Regions from separate parts of the Homo sapiens genome. Here all the other regions are linked to region 4. Evidence: fine-mapped expression QTL. A gene starts in region 4. Each other region holds a variant in brackets. All regions are shown on one strand. Distances are from middle to middle.

Region 1 (6,223 bases), 90 kb before region 4:
GCTTCAAATCTAAACCTGATTATCTCCCAAACACCATCACTTTGGGGGTTAGGGTGTCAACATATGAGTTTAGGGAGGATGCAATTCAGTTGATAGCAGGCCTTCATGCATGGGTGTCCCAGCATAGGTCTGGCAGTTTAGAGGCCAGAACTACACGGAATCTTGCTATGCAAAATGGGCAAAAACACCATTGATTGAAGGATAATTTAACCCGGAGCAGAGAAGTTACATTGAGAATCGAAAAATGACACCCTTGCCTTGGGGTTAACGAGGCTGAAAATAAAGACTAAACCAGCAGTAGTCTGGATGAAGGTGAAGGCAGGTGGGGCATCATTCATCAGACCTGGGAAGTGGGGGCGCAGGGCTTATCTGTTTGGGCCTCATCACTGCTCTCCCTATCATCTCCTGTCAGAAATAATTCCCTGACTGGTGTCCCTTCCGTTTCGGGATGAATTGTCCTCCAGCTGCTCCTGATTCCTGCGTTAAAGTCCTGGTGTGATGGCTCACATCTGTCATCCCTGCACTTTGAGAGGTGAGAGGATTGCTTGAGGCCAGGGGTTCAAGACCAGCCTGGGCAACACAGTGAGACCCCATGTCCACAATAAAAGAAATTAGCCAGGCATGGTGGTGGATGCCTGTAGTCCCAGCTACTCAGGAGGCTGAGGCAGGAGGATTGCTCGAGCCCAGGAGTTGGAGGCTACAATGAGCTGTGATTGTGCCACCGCATTCCAGGCTGGGTGACAGAGTGAGACTCTGTCTCAAAACAAAAACAAAAACAAAGACAAAAACAAATCCTAACCCTTTAGTACTTCAGAATAAGACTGTATTTGGAGATAAGGCCTTTAAAGAGGCAATTATGTTAATGAGGTCATTAGGGTGGGTCCTGATCCAATATGATGGATGTCCTTGTAAGAAAAGGGAACTAGGACGCAGACATGTGCAGAGGAAAGACCATGCAAAGACACAGGGAGAAGACGGCCCTCTGCCAGTCAAGGAGACAGGCATCAGAAAAAAATCAATCCTGCCAACACCTTGATCTCGGCAAAGCTCCAGGCATGTGAGAAAATAAGTTCTGCGGCAGCCACCCAGGCTGTGGTAGTTTGTTATGGCAACCATCACCCACTAAGACACCGTCTCCAAGACCCTCCTCTATAGACAGACACCTGATGCCCAGGCCACCCCTCAGATGCCAGGGGAAGCTGGCTGGGAAGGGCATGGGCTTTGGAGCCACCAGCTACACCCTGGAATCTCTGTTCATGGCCTTCTAACTGTGGGACCTTGAGCAAGTTACTCCATCTCTTTAGTCTTGGAGATCCATAAAGCTGGAGGTAATGAACTCTCCCCAGAGCTGTGCAAATTAAATGAACTAACAAGTAAAAAGATAGATTTATTTATTTATTTTAGACAGGGCCTCCCTCTGTCACCCAGGCTGGAGTGAGTGCAGTGTGCGATCACAGCTCACTGCAGCCTCGACTTCCCAGGCTCAACTGATCTCAGCCTCTGAAGGAGCTGGGATTACAGGTGTGTGCCACCATGCCCAGCTAATTTTTTCATCTTTTGTATGTTGCCCAGGCTGATCTCAAACTTCTGGGCTTAAGAGATCCTCCTGCCTTGGCCTCCTGAAGTGCTGGGATTATAAGCATGAGTCACCTCGCCCAGCCATGTAAAAAGATTTAATATGCCTGAGGCCCAAGGACTCTAATACGTTCTCCAATTTTACCTACTCTAGGGGACATTTGCTGTGTTTTGCAGCCACACTGGGCAGCCTGTCTCTTTGGAGGAAATGCCAAGATCTGCGGGGGTCTGGCCCTGTTTCCCACTGTGTGCAGATGAATCTTCTAACCACCTGTCTTCTGGAAGTGGGGACAGGAAGTGGAGCCAGTTCTGCCAGGTCCTCCCATTCAGATGGTGGGCTCCTGAAGAAGTGACATAGAGAACTCATGGAGGTGACAGTGGAGACAGGCTCCCAGCGGAGGGCAGCAAGGACCAATGATGGTGTGAGTGTCCACTGAGAGTGCCATTGGTGGCGTCCCAGGCAGCAGGTTCTGTAGGATGACCTCACTGTCATCTATGCTTGTTTCCCTGCTTGCAGTCAATCTCCTTGTCCTCTGCCTTGTCCTCTTGGGGCCTGTTCTTGGCTGGCAATCATATTGGAAAGTTATCTAACAAATTATTTCACACTAAAGTGAGAAAGATTTAGATAAGTAGTCATTTTCCTAAAGGCACTTGCATTTTAAGAAGGGAAAGGAAACAGGTAAGGCTAAGCATTTCATTTAACTGGCAGTGGAAAACGTAATCATTTTTAAAAATAATTTATAATTTTATAATTTTTAATTTTTTTTTTATAGAGACAAGGTCTCTCTATATTGCCCAGGCTTGTCAACTCCTGGCCTCAAGTGATCCTCCTGCTTTCGCAAATCCCAAAGTGCTGGGATTACAGGTGTGAGCCACCATTGTCCGGCAGGGAAAGTTCATTTTTAAGGCTGACTATGTATGTACCAAGGGCCTATTATTCCCCTGGGATGCTGGTGTTCAAGGCATTGTCTAGTCTGGCATAGGTGAGGCACATTCATTTGAGTGGCCACCTCCCATGTTGCCTACTCGGCTGGCACGGTGGAGAGCTTAGCTGTCTTTTGAGTCTGTGACTTGTTTAGACTTTACTGGTTTAATCAGAAGGCTCTGAATTTCATACTTAAATTCCCATTCAGGTGTCTG[G/A]CTGACCAACATTGGCAGGTAAAGGTAACATTTTGGTCAGATGAGGAAGGGGGTGCCGGGAGGCAACAAAGAGGTATTTTCCCCAGTGTCTTACTCCTTTGTTCAGTTTTGATGACATGTAGCACGACTAAGAAAAGAACTTCTAGGCCAGTCCAGTGGTGCAGGGTGTGGGTAGGGTAGAGAACCGTACAAGATGGAGATCCCAAAGAGAGCCTGTGCCCAAATGCAAATTCCTGGTCAATTATTTCAGCCAGTTCACAGTGACTGCCTGCTTCTCCCTGCGTTATTTTCACTGGGACCTGAATCAACTCTTGATTCTTGAATCTAGAGAAGGGAAAGGAATCCAGGACAGAAGGTGGGCAAAAAAGGCAGGAGCGCGAGGTGGCTGGGAAACGGGCGTTCTCCATTCATTTCTCACTTCCAAGTCTGACCTAAGCAGGTCTAGCAGGAAGGGCAGATTATCACGCGCAGCAAAGAGACAGGACTGAAGTTTGGCAAGTAGCACAATCCCATCCTCAGGCTCTTTATTTATGTCACTGCCATGAAATCCACTTTGTGAAACAGGGGGCCTTGTCTGTCTGCTCAAGACATGTCTGGGAGAAGAGGTGGACACCTTCTCCACATCGAGAAGTCAGGGTGCCCTGAGCTTCTGCTATGGCGCTTACCCAGAACCTGGGGAGAGAGGCTGCTGCCAAAGAAACAAATACGTGGGTGTCTTTCCTGGTTCCCAAAGGGCTGACCTTAGAGTCACCCGATTGTGCTGCTTACATCCCTCCAGGGCTTTGAAACACATGCTTAGCTCTTGTGGCTAAGAAATGGACACTGCTGAAACGGACACTAAGCTCTTGTGGGGAAGCTCTTGTGGTGCCTAACTGCATCAGAAGGCGATTCTGGCTTTGAGGCTGGGAAGCTTTCGGAGGTGCTTTTCAAATGCAAGCTTATGTCACCTTTAGGAACATTTTTCAATTCGCTTTCTGCTGGCCAGGCTCGCAGCTCCACGCTGTCGCCTGCTCCTGCCTCTCTGTGGCTCCCAATGTCCAGCAGGCACAGACTTGACGGTTGTCTCTGTGCAGAATTCCCCTCACTTTCTGCTTCCACAGGCTGACTTCGTTCGTGCTGTTCCTGCTCCCTGCTCCGGTTACAGCCACAGGCTCCTCCACATTCTTCTGTCTGCCTCCAGTTTCTTCTTCTCACTTTAATCAGTCTTGTCCACCATTGCCAGATAATTAAAAAACAAAACAAAACAAAAACTAAGCTTCCATATTATCTACAAAATAGTCAAGGTCTTTCTTCCATGTTATCTACAAAATATTCCAGGTTGTTCTTAGCCTTTTAGGAATCAGAGGAGAATTTCAACCCATTATGGGTTTAGGCCTCCAAGACTCTAACAGAAGAGGGACACGGTGGAAGAATAATGGGAAGTGGAAATCTTACCCCTGGCAGGGTGTCCCGGTTCTGGATGCATGCCCAAGGAAACACAAACGATAATTTTTACAAATCAAAGCCATGCAAGTCCCATGGAGACATATTAGAACATGTTTTCTTAGATTTGTAAGTCATAGGACCAAAATTGGTGGCTGAATGGCACTGAGGGAGAGTCTGATAGGTTACTAACTAAGGGGTGCTCTATGTTGCCACAGACTAGGTGGAAAAGGAAGGGGTAGGGAAAGCCAGGGTGGTGATCCTGAGAAAGAAGTTGGATGAGAAGACTCTGCGCCTTCTAGCCATGCTCAAATGCTAGTGATAAACACACACAGACAACATACAGTGAAGTACACACACACAGAGTCTCACACACCTTGCACGGTGTGTGAGCACCTTGCATGCTCTTGGGCATCTACAGCACTCATTTCACTGTCAGGTTTTGCCTTTTCTTTGGACGTCGCTCTTGGGCGTCTAGAGCACTCATTTCACTGTCAGGTTTTGCCTTTTCTTTGGATGTCACTCTTGGGCATCTAGAGCACTCATTTTACTGTCAGGTTTTGCCTTTTCTTTGGACGTCATTTTTCCTTGTGTGCATGTTGCCCATTCCCCTAAGAAGTACAGGAGAGGTGGGCACGGTTGCTCACACCTGTAATCCCAGCACTTTGGGAAGCCGAGGCAGGAGGATCACTTGAGGCCAGGAGTTGGAGAACAGGCTGGGCAACATGACGAGACCCTGTCTCTGCAAAAAAAATCTTTAAAAAATTATCCAGGTGTGGTGGCATGTGCCTGTGGTCCCAGCTACTAAGGAGGCTGAGGCGGGAGGATCACTTGAGCCTGGGAAGTTGAAGATGCAGTCAGCTGTGATTGCATCACTGTACTCTTGCCTGGGCAATGGAGTGAAGCCCTGTCTCCAAAAACAACAAACAAACAAAAAAACCAAAAAACAAAATAACAAAAGAGAAGTACAGCAGATATGGAGCAGAAGTGCGAATGGTCTTCTAAATAGTCAATCTTTGGGGGCATCCTCCCCTCCCTTCTCCCCTCCCCCCCTTTTTTTCTTATACTTCTTCTTGCAGTCCAACATCCTTAGCAGTGCAAAATGAGTCAGAGTTTCCTCAGACCTTTGAGTGCTCAGCATTATATAATCATCACTTCCAAGTAGCATTCGGAGATGTCTTTAAGCTGCAGCAGCTATTGTTAGTTGTTTAAGACACTCCATCACTGCCTTTGATCGGAAACTTTCTCATCACCATTATGTGCATCGGTGCAGGCACCTTAAATTTCACTGGGTCTTGGGATTAGTCATATTATAGAGAGACACAGAGATGTGAGAAATAAATTGAAAAAAGGTCTGTAGCAACAGATTTTACACCATAAAAGAGTAAATTATTAGGTGTTAGGAAAAATATAAATGTTGCAAACGGTGTGTTTTATATACTGTTGCCAAGAATAAAAATATGCCAAATATGGGGGAAAAAGGTGTTGGTTAATCTGACTTCTGGCTGGCCCCCACCCTGCAGCTCTTAGCACTGCTGGGCTGTTTTATAGGGCAGTAACCCAGTCACCAAAGCAAAGAGAATTCGAATAAGGGACTTGGAAGATATGCCAACTTGGGGACTAATTATTGCCTTGTTAAACAGTGAGATGGGGTTATTGTACATTTTTGTGTATGGTAGTTAAAATGTATTTTAAAAAAGAAGTTTTTAGAAACCAAGAATTCCCCAAATTCAAGAAGTAACTGATAAAGTAGTTTATGGAAATGTAATCTCCCCATAGAACCAGATTGTGCAACAAAAAAGGAGAAGGAACGATGTTAAATGGGAAACAGAATGGGGGTGACCCTTCCAGATGGCTTTCTGGAAACTCCTTTCAAGCCAGCCACCCACCAGACGATGCTACCAAATGGCCCCTGTATTCGTTTTTTAGGGCTGCCATAACAAAGTGTCACAAGCTGGGTGGCTTACAACAATAAAAATCTACCATTTTACAGTTCTGGAGGCCACAAGTGTGAAATCAAGATGTCAGCAGTGCCATACTCTCTCTGAAGTCTGTTGGAGAGAACTCTTCTTTGTCTCTCCCAGTT
Region 2 (6,223 bases), 130 kb before region 4:
ACCCAGGACAAAAGTAAGGCTGGCCGTTCTGTTTCAGCACAATAACGTGTGTTAATTCAGGATTGATGCCTGGCTGCCCCCAGTCTGGCAGTGGTGTTTGCCTCCTGCCTTTGTTAGGAGAAGCGAAATAAGCTAAGGCTCCTGGAGCCAGCCCTTTCCTGCTCCTCTGCCCCACCCCCCAGACACGCACGCACAGAGCTCTCTTAGCATCAGAGGCCCAGAGGAAGGCTAGGGTCATCAACACCTGTCATTTCCAGGGCCAAAAATGTCATCAGGCGCTGCCTAGCTGGGCTGTCAACAATGGCGTGATTTGGCCAATTCTGGAAGAGGAAATGGACTATTCATGAGCAGTGCTTTCAGTGATGGGTAGGTGCACTGTGTACGTTGGTGTGTGCATACACATCTGTGCACATGCATATGCACATACATGCACCTGCGCACCCAGCCCACACTCCCTGCCGCCTCAAAAACCTCTTGTGGGTTGCATTTTCTCCAGTAACAGAAGTGATGACTCTGATGGGAAATGCACAATTAAGCTCTAAAGTGATTTCCCTAGAAATCAGTAAAAGGGTTTACTGGAACTTAAGAAAAAAAAAAGATGAAAAGTCTGTTTTTCCTTAAGGATTTGCTCCAAAGAAAGCAGCTCTCACCATATGTTCTCCCAGAGGGAGGAAGGAGGGGACAGAATGTACAAGCTGAATGCTGACTAAATGTTGCTGGCCTGGATTCTGGGGGTGGCTAGTCACCCCATCCTGGAAAGGCTGGCAGAACCGTCAAGTTGAAGGCAGTTTAGGAAAGTCCTGGGCAGACTCGGGGCCTCATGGATGTGGAGCAGCCTGTAGCTTAATCTATGTTCAATAAATGCAATGTTTTTCTCAAGGCAGGTGAGGAGGGGCTCAGGCTGTAATAAGTGTTTTAGTATTCTGGAGCAGAGTTTTATACATTTTTAAAGGAAGTCAGCCTCAGAACGCTGATCTCAACATTGTGACTAGCCTGTTACCCTGGGACTGACCCTGAGTAGAGAGACTGAAATCACAGAATTAGGACTCAAAGTAACGATTAGAGTTCCTTGGTTCTACCCTTGTCCTCCAGGTAGTATCATCACTAGCCTGGTTTGACAGAGACCTACCTGTCCTTCTCTCAAAGTTCTCCAGAGAATAAAATTTTATAGGCTACATTGGTAATGAGTGGGAAGGTTGGAAAGTTGTGGGGGTAGGAAAAGAAACAGAATAAATAAGTCAAATATACAGTATGTTAGATGGTGAAAAGTGCTATTATGAGTAACACTAATCTATAACTTGCATTTGTTTTTATTTTGGATCAGGGTCTCACTGTGTTGCCCAGGCTGGAGCACAGTGGCACAACTATAGCTCACTCCAGCCCTGGACTCTTGGGCTCAAGGATCCTCCTGCCTCAGCCTCCAGAGTAGCTAGGACTACAGGCATGTACCACCATGCCTGGCTAATTTTTTATTCTTAAATTTTTGTAAAGATGGGGCCTCTCTATGTTCCCCAGGTTTGTCTTGAACTTCTGGGCTCTCAAGGAATCCTCCTGCCTTGCTTGGCCCCCTAAAGTGCTGTGATCTTAGGGGTGAGCCATTGAGCCTGTCCATAACTTGCACTTGAATGAGGTTTCAGAATTTTCTTTTTCTTAGCCGGGCGCGGTGGCTCAAGCCTGTAATCCCAGCACTTTGGGAGGCCGAGGCGGTCGGATCACGAGGTCAGGAGATTGAGACCATCCTGGCTAACACGGTGAAACCCCGTCACTACTAAAAATACAAAAAAAAATTAGCCAGGCACGGTGGCAGGCGCCTGTAGTCCCAGCTATTCGGGAGGCTGAGGCAGGAGAATGGCGTGAACCCGGGAGGCGGAGCTTGCAGTGAGCCGAGATCGTGCCACTGCACTCTAGCCTGGGTGACAGAGCGAGACTCCGTCTCAAAAAAAAAATTTTTTTCTTTTGCTTTTCTTTCTTTCTTTCTTTCTTTCTTTCTTTCTTTCTTTCTTTCTTTCTTTCTTTTTTTTTTTGAGACGGAGTCTCCCTCTGTCGCCAGGCTGGAGTACAGTGGCGTGATCTCGGCTCACTGCTACCTCAGACACCTGGGTTTGAGCGATGTTCCTGCCTCAGCCTCCTGAGTAGCTGGGACTACAGGTGTGTGCCACCACACCCAGCTAATTTTTGTATTTTTTAGTAGAGGCATGGTTTCACCATGTTGGCCAGGATGGTCTCGATTTCTTGACCTCGTGATCCACCTGCCTCGGCCTCCCAAAGTGCTGTGATCGCAGGTGTGACCCACTGCGCGCAGCCGAGGTTTCATAATTTTCATGGGCCCGGACACATCTATTCTAGGTCATCCTCACAAGAATAACTGTCCTGGAATGTTAAGGACATTTTCTGAGGTCATCTGATTAAAAGTGCCTTTTCTGGCATTAGAATGCAGGTCATCAGGTGTGGAGTGTCCTTTTCCTCTCTATCTAACCTAAGAAATTAGTATATAAA[G/A]TTAATCTCTGTCTTGTTGTATTACTCACTGGAGATTGGACAAGGCCTGCTCACTTTCTTATCCCTGGAAGATGGGAATTCTCGTGTAGAGCTGGTGAGGCAGGCTGTCCTTCAGTCTGTAGACCAGAGCTTTTCAATGACAGTGACTCGAATTGCAAGGTTCTGGTGCATGCCAAAGATCCCCACAGAAGGATCGACATCACAGGGACACTAACCCAAGGGGCCGAGTCTGTTCTGGAGTCAGGAAGAGTCCCACCGGGCAAGAAGAAATGGTTTCACGCTTTCAAACGTTTTCAAGTGGGAACAGGAACATATAGCTTGGGCCAGGCTCTGCCACGACACGTGGCTGTGGCACCTCCCTTGGTGGTGGCTGGGAACCTTGGTAAGGGAGACACGGCAAAGCTAAAGCCAAAGGAGAGCCTGAGAACCAGCAGCTTGAGTGTTTGCCTTGGAAATGCGCTGTGAGGGCCGGGCGCAGTGGCTCACGCCTGTAATCCCAGCCCTTTGGGAGGCCAAGGCGGTGGATCACGAGGTCAGGAGATCGAGACCCTCCTGGCTAACACGGTGAAACCCGTCTCTACTAAAAAAAATACAAAAAATTAGCTGGGCATGGTGGCGGGCACCTGTAGTCCCAGCTACTCGGGAGGCTGGGGCAGGAGAATGGCATGAACCCAGGAGGCGGAGCTTGCAGTGAGCCGAAATCGCGCCACTGCACGCCAGCCTGGGTGACAGAGCGAGACCCTGTCACAAAAAAAAAAAAAAAAAAATGTGCTGTGATTCCTCGGACTAAGAATTCGAATTCCTCCTTTATTCCCTGACCACCCCACCTGTTCTTCTCTGCCCTACAACAGTGGGGAGGAGGGGGGAAAATCAGGTGTTCTGTGACAGTTATAAAAATAATTAATTAGGCCGGGTGCGGTGGCTCAGGCCTGTAATCTCAGCACTTTGGGAGGCCGAGGCAGGTGGATCATGAGGTCAGGAGTTCAAGACCAGCCTGGCAAAGACGGTGAAACCCCTTCTCTACTAAAAATACAAAAAGTAACAGGGTGCGGTGGTAGGCGCCTGTAATCCCAGCTACTTGGGAGGCTGAGGCAGGAGAATCACTTGAACCCAGGGGGTGGAGGTTGCAGTGAGTCAAGATGGTGCCACTGCACTCCAGCCTGGGAGACAGAGTGAGACTCCGTCTCAAAAAAAAAAAAATTAATTAGTTTCAGCAGCTGTTTTGGAACCCAGGTTGGAGAGAAGCATGGGCTTTTCATTATGGCCAAGGTAGGTGAAAGGCCACAGGAATAGCCAGGCACTGAGCCTCGATATGAGCACACCACGTGGCATGGGAAATAAGAGAGTGGAAGTTTAGCATCAGGCAGAGCGGGATGTGGATTCCAGTGCTGCCACTCTCTAGCCTTGGACCTCGGGCCTGTGCGGCACAGAGTTGTTGCCTACCCGGCAAGACTGTGTCAAAGAACAAATGGAGAAGCATGGTATCCATGACCCCCAGCGGCAGCTCTGTGAGTGTCACAGATCAGTCACATCAGGGGTATGGTCACAGCTTGCAAATTTGACTCTCCATAGTGGGCAAGGGAAGAGCTAGGGAAGAGACAAAGTCAAAAACGTGGGCAGTTCCCACGTGTTTACCTGTCCCGTTCAATCAAGGCAACTTGAAAGTCTCTGTGTTTATTCATCTTGCACTCAACAAACTTGTATGTGGGGACTGAGCAGCTGCTGTTCCCCAAAGAATCTTGGTTCCCACCCCCTCATAGTGTGAGGGTCTCACCATTCCAGGTGTGCTTCTAAACTTCAAAGCTCCTGAGAATCTCAGTTCCCTCCCACTCATAGTGTGAGAGTCTCACCATGCCAAGTGTTATTCTAAACTTTAAAGCCCCTGAGAATCTCAATTCCCACCCCTCATAGTGTGAGAGTTTCACCATGCCAAGTGTGATTCTAAAGTTTTGTTTGTTTTGTTTTGTTTTTGAGACAGAGTCTTGCTCTGTCACCAGGCTGGAGTGCAATGACACCATCTTGGCTCACTGCAACCTCCGCCTCCAGGTTCAAGCGAGTAGCTGGGACTATAGGCGCAAGCCACCACGCCTGGCTAATTTTTCGTATTTTAGTAGAGACGGAGTTTCACCATGTTGGCCAGGATGGTCTCGATCTCCTGATCTCGTGATTTGCCTGCCTCGGCCTCCCAAAATGCTGGGATTACAGGCATGAGCCACCGCGCCCGGCGGTGTGGCTCTAAACTTTAAAGCTCCTGAGAATCTCAGTTCCCATCCCTTATAGTGTGAGGGTCTCACCGTGCCAAGTGTCACTCTAAACTTTAAAGTTCGGTATGGTTCATACCTCGTGCCTCTTACCTGCAGCCCAATTACTTCACCAGGGGCTCAACTGAAGAATTAGTGATGAATGGTCATTATGACCCTGTGCAATTTTTGTTATTTATTCACAAACCAAAGAAATGCAAAATGATAAAAAGAAGATACAGTGTTTCCCTATGACATTGGCAGAGACCTTTGAAAAAATACCCAGGGTCTGACAAGAGTGTGGGGAAAAACATTAATTCATTGCTGATTATATAACTAGGATTTTCTGGAAGACACAATAATAGGTATAAAAAACCACAAAAACGTTCAGACCTTTTGATGCCATAATTCTACCACTTAAAACATTTTTCAAGGGGATTATTAAATAGGGTTGCTTTCTAATTAAGAAAGCTCATTGCAAGATACTGTATAAGACCAAAGATTGCAAACAACTTAAATGCTCAGCAATATAGGATTGGCTGATGGAATCATTTGTTCAGCAAATACCACTGAGCACCCTACTGGAGTGCCTGCTGTGCTCTGACCATGCTTTGGGAATAAATATTCTTCTCAGACGTGTGCTCAAAATACACAGTGTGACCCAATGTCGAATGTACAAGTGTGTAAACTGATATTTGACCAAAGACAAATATTGCCAGCTTAGAACTTCTGGGTTTCATGGATACATCTGAAATTTCATTTAAGAATTTTTTTGTTTTGTTTTGTTTTGTTTTTTTAGACAGAGTGTTGCCCTGTTGCCTAGGCTGGAGTGCAGTGGCATGATCTTGGCTCACTGCAGCCCCCGCCTCCCTGGTTCAAGCGAGTCTCCTGCCTCAGCCTCAAGAGTAGCTGGGATTACAGGCGTGCACCACCATGTCCAGCTAATTTTTGTATTTTAGTAGAAATGGGATTTCACCATGTTGGCCAGCCTGGTCTCGAACTCCTGACCTAGTGATCCACCCTGGGCCTCCCAAAGGGTAGGGATTACAGCCTTGAGCCACTGCACCTGGCCTTATTTAAGAATTTAAATCATGTTTCAGTTTTCATTTAAGAACTTTAGTAGTTAAAATTGTATCTGATTTTTTGTTTTTAAATTGATGCATAAGACATGCATATTTTAGGGATACAAGTGGTAATTTTATATATTTGTGTAATTCATACAGATCGAATCAGTGTACTTGGAATATCCATGCCTTAAATATGTATTTTTCCTTGATGCCAGAAACATTTGAATTAGTCTCTTCTAGCTATATGGAAATGTATCTAGATTATTGTGGACTGTAGTCACCCTACTGATCTATCAAACAGCAGGTCTTATTTCCTCTATCAGACCAGAGGTTTGTACCCAGCAGTGACATTTTAAAGCTTAATATTTATAGTGTGATAACAGTGACCTCTCAGCACCGTCACCGGGCAGGGTGCTCCTG
Region 3 (6,223 bases), 270 kb after region 4:
TGGTGAACAGAAATTCCTTGGGTAAAAGAGCAAGGTGCATTGACAGAAAATGCTAATTCTCCAGTAAATGAATAGAGATCGTCCCTTTCTCTCCTGTCAATTGGCTGTGGAGGAAGGAACATGTAGTCAAAGGAGAGACATGTCATAATATCCTCTCAGAGCTGCTTTCTCCTCCAATACTACGTCATGTGCCCATGATTCAGAGTAAAGAGGAGAGCAGGAATGGTTGAAGGAAACAGATTATACAATAGAGGATCCCAGCTAAGGACTCCTGGGGAAAGCTGAAAAAAATGCAAGGTCTCTGCCAAAAGGCCCTGTAGGGAAATTCCTTTCAGAACCCAAATTTGGCAAAAACTTCAACGCTGTAAAAATCGCCATAGCTAGGTTTCTGATTGCATTTTCCCCTGAAACTATATGGGATGTAGCTTGGCTCTGGCATGAGTTTAAGAATAGAAGCGGTAAATACTAACTTTAAATTCTGACTTTTAGCTACTTTGAGACCTTGCATAATCTGTGTGTTTTCCTTCCCAAATATGTAAATAATGTTTTTACATGTATAAGGATTAATTTGGCCTGAGAGCTACATCGAAGAGAGGCCCAGAAGTTTTGCTTTCAGAAAATGTGAAAAGTTTTTCCAAACGGTTCTGTTAACAAAAACTTCTAGATAAATACTTCCTAATAAAGACAAGGAGTAAATTTATATTGTCTCTTGTCTTTCAGAAATTCCCTTTGCTTTGCCAAATAAAACACAGTGTAATTTTTTAACTTGATAAAGAATGATGAATTTGATGTCTTGAATTTGCATACTTTTAAGAAAAAGAGGCAAAGATTTTTGTTGTTGTTTTTGTTTTACTTTTTAAAATAGTTGGCTAATAAAATCTGGATATTTGTTTGTAAGAAATTTGGTAGCAGAAAAAAGGATTAATAAAACACACATATCAAAAACCTGACCCAAGACATTGTGTAAGTTCTAGAGAAGCAAAAGTTCAGTATGAAAGAATTCCTGCATTAAAAGGCCAAGAGAGGATGTGAGGGAGAAAGGGAAAGTCATGGCCTTTAGCAACAGCTAGACCTGAATTCAAATCCCAATTCAACCACTTAGAAGCTGTGTGATCTTGGATAAATTTCCTAACTTCTCTGAACCTCAGTTTCTGGACCTGAAAATTGGGCATAACAGCTATCGTAATCCTGCTGTTGCAGGCCTGTGGCTTAACAAGAGCAAGCCTTCGGAAAGTGATAGCTAATGATGTATTTTATGATTGATGCCCGCTCTAATGCTCATCCCATCCTGGGACATTCCTGTTGCCCTTGAAGTGCTAGCAATCTAGTAGGGGCACAGAGAAGCAGAAACACTTTTCAACTCCAGTTCTGCCTTTCCAACTTCTAACTGGGCATTTCTATTGGAATGTTTTGCCCCAAATTCAAGGTGTATGAAACGAAGCCTTCCTTTCATTATTCAGGCCTTGCTAGCTTCTGTGGAAGGTGCTGTGCCTTCCCAGTTGCTCAGGGTTGGGCCTGGTCCTGCTGATTCTCCTCACTGAGTCCCTTGGCTCTTTCTCTAGGATCTCTGCAGTCCCCCAGGACCCCGCTGTGTAGTCCAGCTGCCTCTGAGCTGCCCACCCTTATGCCTGGATCAGCAGCAGTCTCTATCTTGAGCATCTTACCTTTTCACCAGACCCACCTGCCTGGAATCACTGCTTTCCAGTACTTCCTCATAAGACATGACAAGGGAGAGACTGAGCTCCTCACCGAGGACTCAAGCCCCTCACAATCTGATCACAACCTGCCTCCCCAAGGTTAACGTGCACAACTCCTTCCTGTTCCTTTAGGACAGGTAAATGGATTGTCCCTTGGAAAGCCACTGTGAACACCTGCTGCTGAGCACCTGGCCATGCTGTTCACCTGCAGGTTACCATTCAAGGTGGCCTTTCTCAAGTCAAATCTCCTCCTTGAAGCCTTCATGCTCTCTCCAGACCCCCGTCCCTCCCTTGACTAAACCCTGGCACCGTTTATTCCCTGTAGCACTGCTGGCTTTTCCTATGTGGCCTTGACTAGTAGATAATCTTGTCAGAGATAAGGTTTATCTCCGGGGCAAGCATGAATCCCCTGAGGGTGGTTTGTATGCCAAAATTCTGTAGCTTCCAGCAGTGCCTTGAGCCATAAACATCCCTGGTGTCAAATAAGGACGTGGGCAACAGAGAATTTCAGATTCTTGGTGAAGATCACATAACCTAGTAGGAGCGCAGTGAATCTGGAACTGGACTCCTGTAGGCCCCTGCCTGCAGCCAATTCCTACACCCAGACACTGCCTGAAATTAGTGATCCCCGGACCCAGCACTAGACACTCAGAGGCACTAGAAACTGGTTGTACCCAGTTCCAAGCTTTGGCTTCCCTGGGAAGACAAAGGCAGAAATTCCTTCACACTGGGACGCAGGGCCGGACCAGCTGCCCCTGCCCGCTCCGCACTAACCAGGTGAGAGAACCAGTGTGGTGTCACTTTTGTTATTTAAATGTCAAGGTCCTTATCCCCTGTTCCGCACATGATTTTCATTTCCAAATTTCTCCTTTGAGCCTTTTAATCCAATAGCTGCCAACCCAAGGTCATAAGGCAATTCAATCGCCACCACATTGAGTTCCCGACATGCTGCTTCTGCCAGCCCCCGCAATCACAGTTCTGGATCTGCAGTAGCCTCAGGCTGTCAGTTGATGGTTTAAATGTAGCATCCCTATACTCACCTTCTTTTTCACAGGAAAAAACACGTCACATTATAAACTAACAAGTGCAGCACATAAAAGCTCACTTTAAACAGCTCAGAGCCGAACACTCTGTCCATACATTTCCAACAAAACGGAGATTTGAGATTCCAAAGTACATGAAA[T/C]ACTTTAGGGCCTCCTACCTTTAGAATTTTCTTTTGACCCCTAAGCAGAGTTAAGGAGAAAGATCTGATGCCTAGGAAGGCTGAAAATGTCCAAGGCAGCTCTCATTATCTGTGGTCTGGATCAAGACCACAGACACAGCCCTTCAGTAGACACCCCTCCCCACAAACAGCCATTTGGACGTCCTGTAACCTGAAACACATACTGCAAGCAGTTGAGAGCGGGTGCAAATGACAGTCAGCTACACAAATAATTGGCCCCCAAATGTTTATCAGCTCCCTGCCATGGCCACTTCCATTTATAGCTTATAAACAGTTATTAACTGGCTCCTTCCCATCTGATAGCTAGGCCCCAGAACAGGTGGTGAGAGCGGTGGGTGATTCCAGGCCTCCCTGGGAGGTGCTGTGTGTTTGCCTGTGGGTGGTCTTCCTGCCTGAGCCCAGTGCCCACATGAGAAGACATTGCAGAAAGCCTCCAATTTAGGAGATAACAGTCTGTGTTGTCTGTTTGTGTAAAGCACTGTCCAAGTTACAGCTGGCTTTGCTTTCTGGCCAGCAAACATTGCCAAGAAGGGTTGAAAGGTCAGCATAATCAGCCCCCAAACACAATCCCTTCCCCCTTCTGGCCTTTGCAGATGGGCCACAGTGCTCCACGGATTCTTTTGGAGGTTTGATTATAACAAAATGTTGCTCTAGCTGCGGCTTTGCACAAACCCTGCCAGGAGACGGAAGCCAGAGGGATACGCCCAGTGGGAAGGAGGCAGGGTTTCTAGGGCTTTGGTCCTCTGTGATTTTGTTCTGTGCTAAAAACAGCTTTGCAGGTCCCCACAACTTGCTTTTCTCAGAAATAGTTCCCAATGCAATGGACCACAGAGACATCAGACCTTGGTTCCCTTGGCGTTTCTTTAGGAGAGACCGCAGGAGAAAGAGATGTCAGGGCAGTTTCTCCATCTCGCCACTATTGACATTTTGGGCTAGTCTCTCTTGTGGTGGGCTGTACTGTGCGTTTTAGATTTAACATCATCCCGGCCATCACCTACAAGATGCCATTAGCAACCCCCTCTCCAGTTGTGACAGAAATGTCTCCAGATATTGCCTGGGTAGTAAAATCAACCCCAGTTAAGAGCCAGGGTGTTGAGAGTCTATATATACATTAACTAAAAAACAACGTCCTGAAGTATCCGAATAGGACAGTAGAGGTTTGACAACACTAGAACAGTCTAGTAAAGCTACGCAGAATAGACCGGTGGTAAACATTTTTCATCAGCCAATAAAATCCTGATTAATTTATCTCATAGGGTGGGGGGGAAATGGTAATCAATGATCATAAAATTTGAAAAAGATTTTTAAATAATAACTTCACGGTGAAAAATTTTTAAAAGACTATGGTGATGATGCTGTGATTAGCTATAATGCGGCTAGTATTTTTGAGCACTTTCTATGTGAAAGGCACTGTGCTAAAATCTGCATTATTTTCCTTAGTCGCAGCAAATATATAGGAGGTAGGTCCTGATATTATCTCCATTTTACAAATGCAGGGCCTGGGCCTGGCCCAAGACTGTTTCCAAAGCACTCTCCCGAAGGTTCTCTGACTACAAATCATTCCCCACTCCCTGAATCCAAAACTGAGTTGAAAAGATGGTATGTATTTGGATAATTATGGAATGGGTTTTTTAAATCCCAAACTCAAAATAATAATAACGGCTACTATGTAGCCATTGCCTGGGGGCGGCAGGTGCATCCTCCCTTTCAATGCTCGCAGTTGTCCTGGGTGAGGGACTTGCTGGCGGTGGCCCAGCGGCCGAAGCAAGATTTCAGGGCAGGAGCCGCTGCCCCTGCCTCCTCCTGAGCGGAAATTAGCTCCGAGGGTCTCCAGGTGGGACCCAGTCCCGCTCCGCGCTGTTTCTGGCTGCTTCCCTCCTTCTTTCTTCTCCGCCACACCAGAGAGGGGCACGAAGGAGTCACTAGACTTGGCCTGACCCCCCGCGCCTGGCAGTCCCTGCCCCGGGGTGTCTTGCTTGAAGGTCGGGAAGACAGTCCTTGGCAGGGCCTGACCCCCCCACCCGCTGAGGGCCCTCCTTTTGAGGCCTCTATGGCAGCCCCCGCGGGCTGACCTGGCCGCCCCCACTGAGCTCCCTGGGTCGGTCCTGCTGGTCTCCGCCTCGCTGGGCTCCTCCCGGGCAGTCCCCTGCCCCCCCACAGCTCTGCGGGACCTTCTCCCCGGAGGCGCCGCTCTGCCTCCCGGGGCCCCCGCAGGTCGCTCCTGCGCTCCCCTCGCCTGGGTGTGAGGAGGACCCGGCCTGGGGACCTCCTGCGCTGGCGCCACTCTCCCTGCTCGCTCCCAACCCGCGCCGGGAGGCTCCCGTCTGTAAGAGGACGGGACACTGAGAGGGCAGCGGGAGGGGGGGCAGATCGTGCGTGACGTGCCCCACGCATCTGAGAAGGGGGTGATGTCTTTGGCACAGGATGAACAAGTTAGTCGCATTTTTCAATGTTTAATGCGGCCCCTTCCCTGCTACCTGGCTGTGCGAAGGCGCACTGCGCCCTCCCTCCCTCCCTCCCTCCCGGAGCTCAGGCTCCCTCCCTCCCCGCATCCCTCTTCTCCCTCCCTCCTGCAGCTCAGGCCCCATCCCTCCCCTCCCTCCCTCTCGCAGCTCAGGCTCCATCGCTCCCCTCTCTCCCGCAGCTCAGGCTCCCTCCCTCCCTCCCATCCTCCCTCCTGTGGCTCAGGCCCCATCCCTCCCCTCCCTCCCTCCTGCAGCTCAGGCTCCATCCCTCCCCTCCCTCCCTTCCTCCCTCCCTACCTCCCGCAGCTCAGGCTCCATCCCTCCCCTCCTTCCTTCCCTTCCGCAGCTCAGGCTCCATCCCTCTCCTCCCTCCCTCCCTCCCTCATGCAGCTCAGGCTCCATCCCTCCCTCCCATCCTCCCTCTTGCAGCTCAGACTCCATCCCTCCCCTCCCTCCCTCCCTTCCACAGCTCAGGCTCCATCCCTCCCCTCCCTCCCTCCCACAGCTCAGGCCCCATCCCTCCCCTCCCTCCCTCCTGCAGCTCAGGCTCCATCCTTCCCCTCCCTCCCTCCCGCGTTCAGGCTCCATCCCTGCCCTCCCCCTCCATCAGGCAGCTCAGGCTCTGTCCCTGCATCCTCTCTCTCCCACAGCTCAGGCTCTATCCCTCTCCTCCCTCCCCTCCCTCTGCTGCTGAGCATCCCGACTCACAGACACCACTGCAGAGCCCGCACACGCCTTGGTTGTGGACAGAGCACATTTGTACACATTGGTCAGAACTGGTCAGGCTTTTCCACAGCCTGAGGAGGAGAAAGTGCCCATCTGACTGAGGTACTCAAACG
Region 4 (6,223 bases):
ACACAGGGTGTGGGTGGTGTCCCTTGAGCTTCGACACCACGCCACACCTGAAACCAGCCTGACATCCATGATTTTGCTTTTTTGCTTAAACCAGTCTGCGTCATTTTCAACAAAAGAGTTCTACTAGATATGACAAATTTCTCTAGAAGACCTAAGAAGTGAAAGACTTGAAGCTATTCCAGTGGTTCAGGAACTAGGACACTGGTAGGAAACTGGAAAGAAGGCATCAGAGTTAAGGAAATATTTATGAGGTCAACTCTGGAAGTCTTGGTTACTGAGTGAATACAGTGGCTGAGAGGAATGGAAGCATCCAACCAAATAAAAAAAGATGGTGCTGAGATTTGGGTTATGAGGTCAATGACTGAAGCAATGCGATTAACTGAGTTAGGAGTCTCAAATATAGGATGAGTGCAGAGTTGAGGATGAAGAATTCTGCTTTGGACACAATGAGTGTGAGGTGCCCAAGGATAACCCAACGGGAAGCAGTCACACCAAAGCAACAGGGTGTGCACCTGAAACTCAGAAGGGTGATTGGGCTATGGTGAAGATTCCTGATCACCCATAAATGAATTCATTAAAAGCATGAGAGTGAGTGGAGGGGCCCCTAGAATATGGTGGGTGCATGAGACTAACCCTAGATTGGGGATAGCTCCCTGGGAAATCCAAGGGACAAGGTGAGGAGGAGGAGGCGGAGCCCACCAAGGAAACTAGAAAGAGACCGCTGGAGAGGTCCGAGGACAGCAAGGAGCACAGCCTTCAAGTCTGGGAGCCAACTATCCAAGAAGAGAGTGGTTTGCTATGGATGCCGTGGGCCACCACGTCCCATCTAGGAAAGCAAGTTGAGGTCTCTCTTGAATACATTGGGATTGATTACCCAGACTTTAAAGAATCTATGTCCCCTACTTCCCTTCATTCACTCTGCTCTTTACCTTCTCCTCTTCCCTGGTCACCAGCACCTCTGCTAAAGGGTGGAGAAAGGAACTTCTGATCAGTTACAGAAAAGCTTTGGGGTTACGTGGTGCAAGCTGCTCTGCCTCTGTTTGTGAAGAAATTAGACTATGGCCAGCCATGTGAGTGGCATCACTTTGGTTTCTGGAGCAATAGTTAGTAGCAACTTTTAGAGGTGGTCATTTCGGTTCCCTTCTGGAAAGTGATTCGTGTTTAAGAAAAATAGATGCAACGTTGCTAAGTACACCTAACATTTAAACAGTCTCCAGCAGATAAATGCTGATACTGACACTTCTCACCAGAAAAAGAGAAATACCCATCATGAGGAAGAGAAATGACTTTTGTTCAGTTATGCTCCCGGGTCCCCTTTCACTGGAGGGATATCTCAGCTTTCTGAGCCCCTGGTTACTGCAATCCTCGGTTCCAGAACCCAGCAATTCCTATCATCACAATTGTTTCAAGTCTTATCCAAGCCCTGTATATTTCAGATCATCCTTAATTTCTTGTTCTGTACCCAGAGGAGATCAGGAAAACCTTTAAGTCTCTATGTGAGGCAAATACATCCTCCTCACTGCCCCAGCCCCATGTGATTGATGAAGCAACTGAGGAAGAGAAGTAGGGTGCTTCTGGCACTGGAGGAGCGCAGTGCTGAGAAACTCCGGGCTCCATTCGGAAATAGCACTGATTTCTTAGTGTACTTTTTTTTGGTGTTAATATAGAAAACATCAAAAACACAGTTAAAAGAATGAAGCATGTCTACATACGTGTGGCCAGAAAGACTGACCAGAAGCTGGTAGCAGTGAGGGATGACAGTGCTTGCCCCTGGGTTGAATAGTGGAAGAGTTAGGGGGGAAACAGTCTGCTCTTTGAGACCCTTTCAATTTCATGTGATGGATTTACAGAGACAGATGAATTAAACATTATATAAAAAAGGAATAAAACCACTGGTAGGATCTGTATTCCAGGAAGAAAAAAGCATATTACATAATAGGTCAATGCACAGAAATAAAAAAAGGAATTTAACTAGAGCCTATGCTAATCATAAATCCCTTCCCTGTTCCAGAGTCCTGTTGTCTCTGGGGTCTTGGCCTGTCTTATCTAGGCCATGGAGTGGTGGGGGTGGGATGCTGCTAGTTCCTAGGCAGGAAATAGTGGCCAGTTACCCTTGTGGTGTCATTTCTGGGTCCTGGAAAGGAGACCACTGCTGACCCCTGACTCACCAACCAACAATTATTGATGGAAATCCCACCGGCCTCCCCGGACAAAGGCAGCCCAGACCTGGACTCATTCACATGTAAAGGAAGTGGCCAGAAGTGGCTGCTGTTGGCAGGGGTGAGGGACGGGAGAGCGCGCTAAGTGGCCTGTGTCTGTGGGGGAGGGAGAGGGTGGAGCAGCACAAGCCGGCCTGAGGTTAGGAGCCTGCGGTATCTCCAGGAAAGCAGAGGCGGCTGTGGGGGGCGCCGGGGCTGAAGAGCCAAGTGTGGAGACTGCTCCATCTTGCCCATCTCCAGAAACTCAGACCACCCATCCATTAAAGGCAGGTGGATGAGCAAGGGGGCCTCGCAGGCATTCCAGATCACACTGAACCTGTGCCCCACTGCCTGACCCATTCAGCATCCCTATTAACAGACACTCGCTGCCGTCTGGCCCGGACCCGGCTGGCGCTGCGGGTCCTTCCACCCCAGTTAGGAAGGGTCATGGCTCCCGCGGAAGCCCCTGCCAGGGTGAATAAACTCGGCGTGGGGCTGACGGGCTCTGAATTACTCCGTTGCTTACAAGCCGAGTGCCCCTCTGTGCCTCAGTTTCTCCCTCTATAAAACAATACGAATACCGGCCCAGAAGCGTTGTTGGGCAGATTAAACGAGAAAATCCACTGGAAGTGTTTAACAAACGACACACAATACGGGCTTCATACCTGCCAGCCGATGTCCCCTGCAGCCTTTATTCCCTACCCAATTCCCCTTAGCCTGCTATGTGGAGATACAGGAGGCTTGCACCCGCCGCGGTCCCGGTGTATTTTAACGGGCTCCCGGGGAAGCGGTGTGGAAAATGGATTAGGGAGGGAGGAGGCCAGAGCCTCGGAACCCGGGGAGAGGTCTGCAGGCATCCAGTTGGGAGCTGGAAGGGCGGGACAGGGCCCTTGGCAGGGGGATCCAGGAAATATTTTGGAGAAATTCTCTCTAGGACTTGGTAACAGGTTGAGAGCGGCCACTTGGCCGGGGGCGCCGGCTTCGGAGGCGGGAGGGAGGTGGAGGAAGGGAAGGCAGCTGCAGGGCCGACCTGCGGGGTGGGCGTGAGGCCGGGGGATTGGGGCCGCAGGGGTTCGGCCTGGAGGAGCGGCGTGGGGGCGCCGGGGCCCTGATTCCATCCTGGGCGGGTCGGCCCCGCAGCCGCTGCGCTCGGAACCCCCTAGGCGCCCCGCAGTACCCGGCGTCCTTCCTGCCTCCTCCTCGCCCCTGTCCTCCGTCCGAGCCCCAGTCCCGCCGACCCTGCCGGCGCCTCCGCCCTCCCGCCCTCCCGCCCTCGGTTTCCCACGACCTCGGCGCGACGCGCGCGGGATCCAGTGGAGACTGCTTTCCCATAGGCCGCCATCCAGGGCGGGGAAGGGAGCGGACCCTCCCGGCTCCAGGTGCCTGGGCCCCCGGCGGCCTGCGGAGGCCTCGCCCCACGCCACCCGCCCACTGGCCTCGTCTTCGCGCGGGGGTGAGAGCAAAGGAGGCACTCGGCCCATCGCCAGCCCGGGTCCCCTTCCTGCCCGTCGCTATCCGAGAATTTGCCCCGTGTCCCCCAGGCCGCGGGGGTCCGGAGAACCGAGGGGCGGACCCCGCAGAGGGCTGCGCCGCCCTCCCTTCTCTCCCCGCGGGAAGCAGCCCCCAGGACCGCCCCTCGCTCCCTGCCCGGGAGGGACTGGGCTTCCCCGAGGTGTGCGGCTCCTGGAGAACTCGCTTTCCCGTTTCCAGCCGGCCAAGCCATCAGTTAATCGCTTGCTTTCTCTTTTCTTTACAGAGAAAAGCAGCCTGATTCGGAGGAACGGGTTGCTTGGGGCGGCTCCCAGCTCGAGTTGTGGGCCCCGCCGCGGGTGCCCTTCGGAAACGCGCTGACACCAGGCGAAGCCGCCTCTGCCCGGACGCAGCCCGACACTTGGCCCGCGGGGTTCCCCGGGACGCCTGAGAGTAATGGGCGCGAGGGGGAAAGCCGAACGGCCTCCCTGTGCCCGGCGCAGGCGGTGCCCCCTAGCTGGGTTCGCCGCGGCGGCGCTGCGAGCCCCCGACACTGAGGACTTTTGGTCCAACAGTCCGACGGGGCCCGGTGCGCCGTTCCCTCCGCCCTCTCCCCGCTCCCCGGCCCGCGCGTCTTGGAGGGTGGGTGAATTGTCGGAAGCACTCTACGCCTGGCCAACCCAAACCAGGAACCTCCGCACCAAACAGCCCACGTTGCTGCTGCTCTGGGGTTTTAACGGCCAAGGGAGACTGGAGAAGGGGTGTTCTGCCTTCCCATTCTCTTAGGCCCGTCCACTCCCCATCCCCACAGTTTGGAAGTGGCCTTTTCTGAGGACTCCAGCGCAAAGCATGTTTCTCCTTTTGAGCTGCGGAAGCCTTGCTTGTTCCCGCCATTGGGAGGGCATTCCATCATCTGCAGCTGCCTTCCTCGGTGGGCCTTGTCCCTTAGCGTCCACCTAGGGGACATTCTAAGCTTCTTGAGACCTGCTTGTCCACCCCAACATGTCTCAGCATATGGCTGTGCCCTAAGGGGTCTTTGAGGGCATTTTAGGAGGTGAGCGGCGCCCCTACCTGGGCTCCGCGGGGCCGATTCGGTTTGCCCTTTGCTGGCATGTCAGTGAATTAACTGCTGTCCTTGGGATGACCTGCCCTATGATTTGGCCTCTGGAGCATCCCGGGTGTGTATTTCAGAACTCCTCCCATCTTATCCACCTGCTGAAGGCCTGGCCCCCTGATATGGTTTGGCTCTGTTTCCCCACCCAAATCTCACCTTGAATTTTAATAATCCCCACGTGTCATGGGCGGGACCAGGTGGAGGTAATTGAATCATGGAGGTGGTTTCCTGAACGCTGCTCTCGTGACAGTGAGTTCACAAGATTTTTTTTTTTAACGGAGTATCACTCTGTCACTCAGGCTGGAGTGCAGTGGCGCGATCTTGGTTCACTGCAACCTCTGCCTCCCGGGTTCAAGAGATTCTCCTGCCTCAGCCTCCCGAGTAGCTGGGATTACAGGTGCGCGCCATCACGCCCGGCTAATGTGTATTTTTAGTAGAGAAAGGGTTTCACCATGTTGGTTAGGCTGGTCTGGAACTCCTGACCTTGTGATCTGCCTGCCTCGGCCTCCCAAAGTGCTGGGATTACACGCGTGAGCCACTGTGCCCAGCCGATCTGATGCTTTTATAAAGGGCTTTCCCCGTCCCCCTTCCTCTCTCTCACCACCCTGTGAGAAAGGTGCCTTTCTTCCCCCTTCACGTGAACTGCCTCCATGATTGTAAGCTTCCTGAGGCCTCCCCAGCTATAAGGAACTGTGAGCCAATTAAACTGCTTTATAAATTAACCCAGGTATTTCTCGGGTATTTCTTCATAGCAGCGTGAGAATGGACTGATACACCCCCAATGTGGAGTAGGGGAAGCTGAGGGAGTTAGGAGGTCCCAGCAAGGTGAAGGTGTGATGGGGTCTTGGGACAGTGAGAGTGCTGCCTCAGGCAACAGTGGGCAGGTCATTGAGGCTCCATTGAGCTTGGTGAGCAGGAAGCTGAGAGAGGGAGCTGTCGATTCAGGAGTCAGGGGTGACATGGAAGGAACCTAGGGCTTTGCCAGGCACAGGTGAAGGAAGGCCACTTAGGTACTGGCAGTGGGAAGAGAGGGCAGGGAGTGGTGGACGGAGAGGAAGAGAAAGCTGAACACTGGAGCACAATGCGGGTGCTGGGAGGCAAGCAGAGGGGGCTGGGGGCTTCTCATATGGTGCATCCTGGCATTTATATTTTGAAAAATAATTGTTTTGTTCCCATTAGTGCTTTTATAATAGTTTTAGGAAAGAAGAGAAAATATGAATTAGCTATTATGAGGCTTCTTTTGAAGTTTCTTTCAGTTCAGAAACATATCCCACTTTACAAAAAAATTAAGAAAATTCAAAGTTAAAAAATGTAGGGAGGCCAATAATTTTAGTTGCCAGACATTTTAGTCTGACAAGACAACTCATTGGAGTTTCCTTAGAGACGTATTAGAAATTCAGAGCTGCACACGCATTTTTCCCCCTGCCAGATAAACTGAAAC
Region 5 (6,223 bases), 280 kb after region 4:
GGAGGTGAGCAGCGATGGGAAGGTTGGTTATGGAGGAATGCCATTGTCCTGCAGGTGTTAGGAGGACTGGACTGTCTCTAGGTATTAGACCGGCGGATGCAGGCAAAATACAGTCTGTGGGCCAAATCTGGCCCTCAGCCTGATTTTGTGCAGCCTGAACAAAAGAGTGGGTTTTGGAGAGAAAAGTGAGTTTTGGAGTTTGTTTTTTTGAGACAGGGTCTCACTCTGTTGCCCAGGCTGGAGTACAGTGGCACAATCTCCTCCCCGGGTTTAGGTGATCCTCCCACCTTAGCGTCCCCCGAGTAGCTGGGGCTACAGGCGTGCACCACCACACTTGGCTAGTTTTTTTGTATTTTTTGTAGAGATGGGTCTCCCTATGTTGCCCAGGCTGTTCTCGAACTCCTAGATTCAAGCAGTCCACCCACCTCAGCCTCTCAAAGTGCTGGGATTATAGGAGTGAGCCCCCTCACCCAGCCAAAAGTGTTTCTTACATTTTTAAATAGTTGATAAGAAGTCAAAACAGAGTAATACTTTGTGGTACATGAAAACGACGTGAAATTCAAACTTCAATGTCCATTTGCTTATTTATTTTCTGTGGCTGTCTATGTGCTGTGAGGGCAAAGCTGGGTAACTGCAACAGAAACCATAAGGCTAGCAAAGCCTGAAATACATACTATTATGTTGGTGCGAAAATAATTGCACCAACCTGAAATATCTGGCTCTTTACAGAGGAAGTTTACCAACCACTGATTAGACCATAGAGGGATGAGGGTGGGAGCAGGGAGATCAACAGGGGGCTCTTGCAATAGTCCAGGTGAGAGGATCCTGGCTTGGACCAAAGAATAGAAGAGGAGGCCATGAAAAGTGGTTGTATTTTGGATATACAGATGGTTCCCGACTAACGATGGCTTGATTTATGATTTTTTTTAACTTTACAATGGTGCAAAACAGATACACATTCAGTTGAAATCACAGTACACATTTTGAATTCTGATCTTTTCCTGGACTAGCGATATGCAGTATGACACTCGAGACGCTGGGTGCAGCAGTGGGCCTCAGCTCCCAGTCGGCCACGCAACCACGATCACCATCACTTTATAACCAAGTGTTGAATATCTCATGTAATTTACTAAAGCAGAAAAATCATTTCAACTGAAAGATATGACTCCCGTTCAGTAAAATATTTCATGAATGAAGTAAAGTCTACGCTTAATGAAAAGATATTACCCCTCACAGTTTGTACTCTGTCTCGCTATTTTACATTTTAAACCTGACCAAGACTAGAGATCTTCCTGAAGAAGTCCATGCCGGCCAAGCCATGGACAAGTGTGGATGCCCCAGGGCCTGCTACCAGGTATTGTTGAGGCTCATCAGAAGACAGACATGGATGACCCTGTCACAGTAGCATCCCCATCATCCAATTAACTGTAGTTCAATGTGTCCCATATCCTTCAGGCCCTTTGTGATTTCAGCTGTGGATGTCAGGCCCTATACAGCCCTTTTGTTTTCCACCTCCAGTACAGTACTTAACAAATTGCATGAGACAGTCGACACTTTATTGTAAAAAAAAAAAAAAACAATAAAGGCTTTGTGTTAGATGACTCTGCCCAACTGCAGGCTAACCTAAGTGTTCTGAGCATGTTTAAGGCAGGCCAGGCTAAGCTCTGATGTTTGGTAGGTTAGGTATAATACATAATTTTTTGACTTAATGATGTTTTCAATTTATGATGGGATTGCTGGGACATAATCCCATTGTAAATTGGGGAGCATCTGTATTTTGATGGCAGAGACATCAGGATTCACTGATAAGTCCAGTAAAATATGTGAGAGCCAGAAAAGGGTCACGCAGAAGGCCAAGGGTGTAGCTTGTACAGTTGGATGCTGGGGGTTGCTGTTTACTCAGATGGGGGAAGCTCTAGGAGGAGCAGGATTTTTTCGGGGGGGTTGGGGCAGAGGATCAAGAGTTCAGTGAGATCATATCATAGTCCTGTTGTAGTAGTGAGGGTTGGGTATTCTTTTTCCTATTCACCTAATTCAGCTCTGGTAGCTGCCTGGACCTATAATAAATGGCTAGGTATACTCGCTGACATGGAACCTAATGTCAGTGGTATGTTAGACAGACCAAGAGACTCAGACTAACCTAAGGGACATCACATGGGTTGCAATGGACAATGGTGTCAATAAAATTAAAAACAACAACTATTAAGCAACATTGCAGTAGGTTGGGTTCCCCCAGAAGCTGATTTTGAGACACAGGTTCATGTGCAAGAAGCTCATTTGTGAACTAATCTCAGGAACCACTAGCAGGAGAGGGGGTAAGTGAAGACTATGGGGAGAGGGCCGCCTACAGTCAACAGATCGCTGTTCAGGATATGGGGTTCAATCCTGCTGGGGACCTCTAGGAGACCGTACCAAATGTGCCTCTGAGTTGTCCTACCCAAGGTGAGGCTGTTGGGGTATTTATCCTCCAATTCCTCTTTATTATTGGCTGAGGAGATGATAAATGCCTGGCACTTCCACTTCCCAAGTGTGACCTCGGCATGTTTTTGTAGGTAGAGAAAGCTCTCCAGTAAAGTTGCAGGTGCCACTGGTGTCATTGAGAAGGGCAAGTGCCAGGGAGTTCATATTCCCAGTGAGACAGCAAAAGCATCTGATGGAACATGATAATCATGGAAGTGCAGACACCTGCCACCAGCACTCGCTTGTAATGCCCAGAGCCCTGGGGAAAGCTCGACTAATCCCCAGGCCTGTTTCAAACTACAGCCAAGGAGCTTTCTCAAGACCAGAGAAAGTTTTTGAAGGCCCAAGGCATGGTTTCCATATTTGGCCTCATTAAGTCAATTCAAGACCTTTTTATAACCAGAGCGAAAATGTTTTCATGTGATGTATTTCCTAAATTGCTATAAATATTTTTCACGTATGTAGCTTCAATATCGATTTTA[T/C]TAGAAACAACATGGATTATCTTTTCATTGCTAATGAAAAGAGAAAACATCACTTCATTTACTGAGAACAGTGGCAAAATATTCTAAGATATTGATCAAAAGTTGGGCTGACTACCACTTGTGTTAGCCAGTAATAGAAGCTTCAAAAGGCAGCCCAGGGATAGGCTGAGTTCCATGAAATGAGAAGAGGATTTAGTAGGCAAAAAGTACCTGGATATGTAGATGCAGGTTCCATGGATAGCAAGGCTGACTTTCAGCTTCAACTTACAGGTAACCGAAAGACTGAATAGATCCCATTCCCTGATACTTCCTGATCTCTTTAGAAATGGTTCCAGTCCACCTACAATGAGATATAAGGGAAATAACAGTCAGGCTGTCCACCTAGAGGGGTGAACAAATAAATGCAAACCTCAGAATCACGTTAGTTATTGAGAAACACTCACACTCACACACCAGATGCTCTGAAGGCCAAATAAGTTGCTGTCTACCAAGTTCATGGGCTTAGCGCTAACTACAAGTTGCTTAGGTATTCTGTTAAATCACCTGGATCGTTTAAGGATTTTCATATTTTCGTAACCGTTAAGAGTGTATACAATGTACAGTGATTTAAAGAAAGCAGAACTGGCCAGGCATGGTGGCTCATGCCTGTAATCCCAGCACTTTGGGAGGCCGAGGCGGAAGGATCACCTGAGGTCAGGAGTTGAAGACCAGCCTGGCCAACATGGCAAAACCCCGTCTCTACTAAAAAATACAAAAATTAGCCAGACGTGGTGGCAGGTGCCTGTAATCCCAGCTACTCAGGAGGCTGAGGCACTTGAGTCACTTGAACCTGGGAGGCAGAAGTTACACTGAGCCAAGATCACACCACTGCACTCCAGCCTGGGTGACAGAGACAGACTGCCTCAGAAAAAACAAAAACAACAACAACAAAAAAGAAAATAGAACTCCCAGGTCCATGAAATCATGACGATTGTCACTAAAAATATATCCAATGTATGGAGGCAGGAAGATTTTGTCATCACACATCACAGAGGCCATAAGCCACTGACCTCGTTGCCTCCCTCTTCTGGCAGAGTATGCCTGGCCTTCAAAGGTTGAACACTTATTTTTCAATATTTATTAGCTTTTTAAATTTGTCTTTGAATTGCCCATTTACAGTTTTGCCCGTTTTCCTGTTAAAGCGTTTGTCTTTTTCATATTGATTTGTAAGAGCTGTTTAAATAATTGAGATTGAACATTTATCTGTTGCAACTATTGCAAATATTCCTTTAGTTTTTCATTTCTAAAACTTTATGTGGCATTTTATGACATGTAGAATTGTATACTTTTATGAAGTTATAGCCAAGGTCTTTATGATTTTTTTTCTTGACTTTTATGTGACTAGATGAATATCCACTGATATTTTTCTAATTCATTTAGGTTTTTATTTTAAGTAAAACTCTTCAGACCATCTGGGATGTATTTAGGCAGGGGGAAGGAAATGTAATATTTTTTTTCCCAAATTGTTAACCAGTAGTGTCAGCCATCAATTACTGAATAATCCTTCCTTACTGATTTGTTAACAAGGTGGAGAATTTTATTCCCCAAAATGCTCCATGAGTTTTCTGTTGAAGTGAGAAACAGATTTGCTTCCTAGCGGCTCTCATGTGCTTTTGCCCAGAGGGTGCTAGGGATGCTCGGGAGATGAGGTGGTTCTAGATGCTCTGGCCATCCTAGAGAGGTCTGGCATAGGGGCAAATGGAAACAGAAGTCCTAGGGGACAATTCTGCTGTCCACTGTGGCACAGAGGAGAAAGAAGCAGAGCATTTGAAGGAGAAAGTCAGTGGGGATGCCATGAGAAAGCTGCGTGGGCGAGAGAAAGGAGAGGTAGCTGGTAGCTACTGTGAGTACTGAAGTTTGGGGAACAGAAATATTTCCAAAGAAGATCTTCAGGAAGTTTTCTAAAGATGAATTTCTTTCAGAAAATCTGTAGCAAAATTTCTATCATTCTTGAAAGTGTCTTAAATTGAATGTGTTTTCTTGGAATGAGACTGCAAAAACTGGACTACATGCGACATATATCTGGGTTCACCATATATCACGAGGCCATTTCAAAGACATTTGGAATGCTGCCTCATTTGTTAAGAAACTTTATATATTCTTTACTTAAGATGTATTGCTAAATTCTTAAATATCATAGCTTCTTTCTGAGATTTAGATTATATTATGTTCTTGTACTAGGTCCTACTTACTTAAATGCTCATCCTTTTAACTTTCTCTGTTACCGCCCATAAGGGATCTTCATCTATCACAAATGATACATCTAGATTATAGTAGAATCTAACCCCAGCCAATGAAAAACATAGCTGGAAATCCATACCTTATTTGCCAGGTAAGAGCTGAGGGGAACTCTTTCCTTGATCTGAGTGGAGCACAATCGATGCTGCTGGTCCTAGGAAACTCCTGGCTGCCAGAACCAGTGGGCTGTACAGACAGCATGTCTGGCTGGGGCAGGATGAAGGGCGACGTGAGCAGGGGCAGAATATGCGGAGCAAACACTGCGACCACAGGATGGCTGAGGCAATGCAGATAAGAGGTCTCAGGGATAGCATCCTGGGACTGAAACTTGGGAAGGAAGAGGAAAAAGTTGTATGTTTCTATTACTATCACTACAGAGTATAAGGAATGGCCCTAAGAATGTGATAAACTTAGAAGAAATTCCGATCTTTACTATGATCTGGAGTTATTCCTTTTATTTTTATATTATGTTATTCTTTTATTTGAGGTTCTTTTCTTTTGCACAGGACTTTTATTATGCAATTTTTAAACACATTGAGACTTAAAGTCAGAATTTTTAAATCTGAGTTTAAAAGAAAGTATGATGGTAGTAAATGTGGGGTAAAGCATTTCAATAAAATTCCAACAAGGATTCTTTTGTGCTGATGAATATCAAATGCGCTGTCATTTTTATTGCCCATGTGCTATTTTACTGTATAGATATTCAATGAATGACCGAATCTGTCCTCTGATTATGGGCAGCTTTTTTTTCCCCTTATTGGTTGCTATTGCAAACAAAGCTGGATTGAACACTTTTGTTTATAAGTTGAATCATATCAGTCAACTGCTTTAAAATCCTTATTGGCTCCCTGTTGCCCTCAGGATAATCCATCCTTTTACATCTGGCACACAAAGCTCATTAGAACCCAGCCAGAGTCTGCGTTAGAGGCTCCTCTCCAGCCAGCTCCATTTCCCAGCCCCTCAAGACCCAGCTCTCGTCCCCTTCTTTGTAAAACCTTTCCCAT

What was found. PIP is the estimated chance that this variant, and not a neighbour inherited with it, causes the effect. A credible set is the group of variants that fine-mapping cannot tell apart.
Region 1: its variant is the best candidate, but not a certain one, in a credible set for the expression of LINC00092 in whole blood (INTERVAL, PIP 0.89).
Region 2: its variant is the best candidate, but not a certain one, in a credible set for the expression of LINC00092 in subcutaneous fat (GTEx, PIP 0.85).
Region 3: its variant is the best candidate, but not a certain one, in a credible set for the expression of LINC00092 in whole blood (TOPMed, PIP 0.64).
Region 5: its variant is the best candidate, but not a certain one, in a credible set for the expression of LINC00092 in whole blood (TOPMed, PIP 0.59).

The regions. Positions count from the first base shown.
Region 1 is chr9:96,108,944-96,115,166 of GRCh38, reverse strand. It overlaps LOC158434 (a long non-coding RNA gene), which reads left to right. Exons shown (of 3, transcript NR_132344.1): 2 at 413-532; 3 at 6,131-6,223. Among named protein-coding and RNA genes, the nearest start is that of LINC00092, 90 kb to the right of the region's middle. The variant G/A (reference allele first, on the strand shown) is at 2,716.
Region 2 is chr9:96,150,836-96,157,058 of GRCh38, reverse strand. No RefSeq gene overlaps it. Among named protein-coding and RNA genes, the nearest start is that of HSD17B3-AS1, 93 kb to the left of the region's middle. The variant G/A (reference allele first, on the strand shown) is at 2,497.
Region 3 is chr9:95,751,205-95,757,427 of GRCh38, reverse strand. No RefSeq gene overlaps it. Among named protein-coding and RNA genes, the nearest start is that of ERCC6L2, 120 kb to the left of the region's middle. The variant T/C (reference allele first, on the strand shown) is at 2,881.
Region 4 is chr9:96,019,013-96,025,235 of GRCh38, reverse strand. LINC00092 (long intergenic non-protein coding RNA 92) reads left to right here and starts at 3,425. Exons shown (of 2, transcript NR_024129.2): 1 at 3,425-3,651; 2 at 3,955-5,504. LOC105376159 (a long non-coding RNA gene) reads left to right here. Exons shown (of 2, transcript NR_188619.1): 2 at 1-1,976. It also overlaps a transcript of ERCC6L2 not described here. RefSeq lists enhancers at 2,003-2,503, 3,936-3,985 and a silencer at 4,196-4,245.
Region 5 is chr9:95,742,278-95,748,500 of GRCh38, reverse strand. No RefSeq gene overlaps it. Among named protein-coding and RNA genes, the nearest start is that of ERCC6L2, 130 kb to the left of the region's middle. The variant T/C (reference allele first, on the strand shown) is at 2,943.